Linked DNA regions of Homo sapiens: region 2 is linked to region 1. The links come from fine-mapping of genetic effects on gene expression. Tissue or cell type: whole blood. Region 1 holds a variant in brackets; the other region holds the start of a gene. All regions are shown on one strand. Distances are between the middles of the regions.

Region 1 (2,764 bases):
GTTTTTTTTTGAAAATAGAATAGTTGGGATGAGAGGTTTCTTTAAAAGAAGACTAACTGATCACATTACTATGATTCTCAAAGAAGAAACCAAAACTTCATATAATACTATAAAGTAAATATAAAATAGTTCCTTCTATAGTATATTTCTATAATGCTACAGTTTAAACAGATCACTCTTATATAATACTATTTTGATTTTGATGTAGAATTGCACAAATTGATATTTCTCCTATGATCTGCAGGGTATAGCTTAAAGTAACAAAAACAGTCAACCACCTCCATTTAACACACAGTAACACTATGGGACTAGTTTTATTACTTCCATTTTACAAATGAGGAAACTAAAGCTTAAAGATGTGTAATACACCGCCCAAGGTCACACAGCTGGTAAAGGTGGATTTCATCCCAGACAGTTACAGTCATTGCCATGGGCACAGCTCCTAACTTAGTAACTCCATGTAACTGGTACTCAGTGTAGCTGAATTGAAAGGAGAGTAAGGAAGCAGGTTTTACAGGTCTACTTGCACTATTCAGAGCCCGAGTGTGAATCCCTGCTGTGCTGCTTGGAGAAGTTACTTAACCTATGCAAGGTTCATTTTGTAAATATTGGAAATGGAGTGATAATACGTACTTCACCAGAGGATTTAATGAGACCTTATACGATCCTTAGTTCAGTACCTGACTAGTGCTTCATAAATGCTTTTTCATCCAATCTGACAATCTCCAGCTTGTAATTGGGGCATTTAGAACATTTAATATGATTATTGGCATGGTAGGTTAAAGCTGTCATCTTGCTGTTTTCTATTTGTTCTTTTTGTTTTCTCCTTACTTTTGGATTTTTTTATTCTACTATGTCTTTTCTATTGTCTTATTAACTATACTCTTTGATTTATTTTAGTGGTTGTTTTAGGGTTATACCTCTTTCTAATTTACCAGTTTATAACCAGTTTATATACTACTTGACATATAGCTTAAGAAACTTACTGTTGTTGTCTTTTTGCTGTTATGGTCTTAACGTTTTTATTTCTACAAACATTATAAACTCCACACTTTATTGTTTTTTAATTTTACTTATACAGTCAATTATCTTTTAAAGATATTTAAATATAAACATTCAAAACACCCCAATTAAAAGTCAGAGATTGTTAATACCACATGATCTCACTTACACACAGAATTGAAAAA[C/T]TTGGAACTCATAGAAGCAGAGAGTAAAAACATGGTTACCAGGTGCTGGGGAGAGGCGGTGGGCTGGGGAGATGTTGGTCAAAGTTAGACAGGAGGAATAAGTTCAAGAGATCTATTGTACAACTTATTCAGTTAGATAGGAGGAATAAGCTAAAGATCAAGAGATCTATTGTACAATGTGACTATAACCAACAACATATATTGTACACTTGAAAATTGCTAACAGTATCTTTTAAGTGTTCTCTCTACAAATAAATATGTGAGGTAATGTATATATTAATTAACTGTAGTCATTTCACAATGTATACTTATTTCAAAACATCATATTGTATGCTATAAATATATACAACTTTTATTTTTCAATTTTAGAAATGTCCTTAAAAAATCAGATTTTCAGATCAGATAAAAAAGCAAGACCCAACTATATGCTGCCAACAGGAAACACACCTTAAAAATAAAGGACGAACAAACAGATTAAAAGTAAAAGGATGGAGAAAAGATACATCATATTGGTAATTAGAAGAAAACTGGAGTGACAATATGAAACAAAATAGATTTCAGAGCAAAGAATATTACCAGGGGTAAAAATGATCATTTTATAATGATAAAAGAGTCAGTTCAGCAAAAGGATATAACAGTCCTAAATGTTTTTTCACCTCATAGCTGTGTCAAAATAGATGAAGCAAAAACTGATAGAACTGTAAGAAGTAGACAAGTCCACAATTATGTTTGGAGATTTTTTTTTTTTTTTTTTTTGTCGCCCAGGCTGGAGTGCAGTGGCAGGATCTCAGCTCACTGCAAGCTCCGCCTCCCAGGTTCACGCCATTCTCCTGCTTCAGCCTCCCCAGTAGCTGGGACTACAGGCGGCCACCACCACGCCTGGCTAATTTTTTTGTATTTTTAGTAGAGACGGGGTTTCACCGTGTTAGCCAGGATGGTCTCGATCTCCTGACCTCGTGATCTGCCTGCCTCGGCCTCCCAAAGTGCTGGGATTACAGGCATGAGCCACTGCACGCAGCCTGGAGATTTTAATATCCTTTCAATGTTTAGTAGAACAAGAATACACAAAATCAGTAAGGATATAGAAGATTAGAACAAGACTATCAAACAATTTGACTTAAATGACATTTGTAGAGCACAGCAGTCCCCAACAACAATAAATCACACATTCTTTCCAAGAGTACATGAAACATGTACCAAGATAGACCGTATTTTGAGCCATGAAACAAATCTTGATAAATTTAAAAGGATTCAAGTCATAGAAAATATGTTCTCTGACCACAATGGAATTAAATTATTAACCAATAACAAATATCTGGGAAAACCTCAAAAACTTGGACACCAGCGCTTTTAAAAGACTAAATAATTTCTAAATTATCTGTGTTGGGGGGAAAAGAGAAATGGATTAGAGAGCAAAAAGGGTATCAGAGTGCTGTGGTACGATTTTTATGAAGAGTGGAACAGAATCTGCCTTTGGCGTTTCCCCACTACAGCCCATTCTTCACATTGATAACAGCATGATCCTTCTAAAATTAAATCTAACGATCACTTCTGCTTAATGGCTCTCCAACACTTAC
Region 2 (2,500 bases), 28 kb before region 1:
GTTTAAAAAACCTTTGTTTTTTTACACATCTGAGTGGTGTAAATGCTACTCATCTGTAGTAAGTGGAATCTATACACCTGCAGACCAAAAGACGCAAGGTTTCAAAAATCTTTGTGTTTTTTACACATCAAACAGAATGGTACGTTTTTCAAAAGTTAAAAAAAAACAACTCATCCACATATTGCAACTAGCAAAAATGACATTCCCCAGTGTGAAAATCATGCTTGAGAGAATTCTTACATGTAAAGGCAAAATTGCGATGACTTTGCAGGGGACCGTGGGATTCCCGCCCGCAGTGCCGGAGCTGTCCCCTACCAGGGTTTGCAGTGGAGTTTTGAATGCACTTAACAGTGTCTTACGGTAAAAACAAAATTTCATCCACCAATTATGTGTTGAGCGCCCACTGCCTACCAAGCACAAACAAAACCATTCAAAACCACGAAATCGTCTTCACTTTCTCCAGATCCAGCAGCCTCCCCTATTAAGGTTCGCACACGCTATTGCGCCAACGCTCCTCCAGAGCGGGTCTTAAGATAAAAGAACAGGACAAGTTGCCCCGCCCCATTTCGCTAGCCTCGTGAGAAAACGTCATCGCACATAGAAAACAGACAGACGTAACCTACGGTGTCCCGCTAGGAAAGAGAGGTGCGTCAAACAGCGACAAGTTCCGCCCACGTAAAAGATGACGCTTGGTGTGTCAGCCGTCCCTGCTGCCCGGTTGCTTCTCTTTTGGGGGCGGGGTCTAGCAAGAGCAGGTGTGGGTTTAGGAGGTGTGTGTTTTTGTTTTTCCCACCCTCTCTCCCCACTACTTGCTCTCACAGTACTCGCTGAGGGTGAACAAGAAAAGACCTGATAAAGATTAACCAGAAGAAAACAAGGAGGGAAACAACCGCAGCCTGTAGCAAGCTCTGGAACTCAGGAGTCGCGCGCTAGGGGCCGGGGCCGGGGCCGGGGCGTGGTCGGGGCGGGCCCGGGGGCGGGCCCGGGGCGGGGCTGCGGTTGCGGTGCCTGCGCCCGCGGCGGCGGAGGCGCAGGCGGTGGCGAGTGGGTGAGTGAGGAGGCGGCATCCTGGCGGGTGGCTGTTTGGGGTTCGGCTGCCGGGAAGAGGCGCGGGTAGAAGCGGGGGCTCTCCTCAGAGCTCGACGCATTTTTACTTTCCCTCTCATTTCTCTGACCGAAGCTGGGTGTCGGGCTTTCGCCTCTAGCGACTGGTGGAATTGCCTGCATCCGGGCCCCGGGCTTCCCGGCGGCGGCGGCGGCGGCGGCGGCGCAGGGACAAGGGATGGGGATCTGGCCTCTTCCTTGCTTTCCCGCCCTCAGTACCCGAGCTGTCTCCTTCCCGGGGACCCGCTGGGAGCGCTGCCGCTGCGGGCTCGAGAAAAGGGAGCCTCGGGTACTGAGAGGCCTCGCCTGGGGGAAGGCCGGAGGGTGGGCGGCGCGCGGCTTCTGCGGACCAAGTCGGGGTTCGCTAGGAACCCGAGACGGTCCCTGCCGGCGAGGAGATCATGCGGGATGAGATGGGGGTGTGGAGACGCCTGCACAATTTCAGCCCAAGCTTCTAGAGAGTGGTGATGACTTGCATATGAGGGCAGCAATGCAAGTCGGTGTGCTCCCCATTCTGTGGGACATGACCTGGTTGCTTCACAGCTCCGAGATGACACAGACTTGCTTAAAGGAAGTGACTATTGTGACTTGGGCATCACTTGACTGATGGTAATCAGTTGTCTAAAGAAGTGCACAGATTACATGTCCGTGTGCTCATTGGGTCTATCTGGCCGCGTTGAACACCACCAGGCTTTGTATTCAGAAACAGGAGGGAGGTCCTGCACTTTCCCAGGAGGGGTGGCCCTTTCAGATGCAATCGAGATTGTTAGGCTCTGGGAGAGTAGTTGCCTGGTTGTGGCAGTTGGTAAATTTCTATTCAAACAGTTGCCATGCACCAGTTGTTCACAACAAGGGTACGTAATCTGTCTGGCATTACTTCTACTTTTGTACAAAGGATCAAAAAAAAAAAAGATACTGTTAAGATATGATTTTTCTCAGACTTTGGGAAACTTTTAACATAATCTGTGAATATCACAGAAACAAGACTATCATATAGGGGATATTAATAACCTGGAGTCAGAATACTTGAAATACGGTGTCATTTGACACGGGCATTGTTGTCACCACCTCTGCCAAGGCCTGCCACTTTAGGAAAACCCTGAATCAGTTGGAAACTGCTACATGCTGATAGTACATCTGAAACAAGAACGAGAGTAATTACCACATTCCAGATTGTTCACTAAGCCAGCATTTACCTGCTCCAGGAAAAAATTACAAGCACCTTATGAAGTTGATAAAATATTTTGTTTGGCTATGTTGGCACTCCACAATTTGCTTTCAGAGAAACAAAGTAAACCAAGGAGGACTTCTGTTTTTCAAGTCTGCCCTCGGGTTCTATTCTACGTTAATTAGATAGTTCCCAGGAGGACTAGGTTAGCCTACCTATTGTCTGAGA

The links. PIP is the estimated chance that this variant, and not a neighbour inherited with it, causes the effect.
Region 2: it holds the start of C9orf72, and the variant in region 1 is fine-mapped to the expression of C9orf72 in whole blood (INTERVAL, PIP above 0.99). The same link has a PIP of 0.9 or more in Th1 cells.

Annotation. Positions count from the first base shown.
Region 1 is chr9:27,543,369-27,546,132 of GRCh38, reverse strand. No RefSeq gene overlaps it. Among named protein-coding and RNA genes, the nearest start is that of MOB3B, 15 kb to the right of the region's middle. The variant C/T (reference allele first, on the strand shown) is at 1,188.
Region 2 is chr9:27,571,979-27,574,478 of GRCh38, reverse strand. C9orf72 (C9orf72-SMCR8 complex subunit) reads left to right here and starts at 998. Exons shown (of 11, transcript NM_018325.5): 1 at 998-1,048. RefSeq lists enhancers at 389-916, 1,515-1,604 and a silencer at 925-1,004.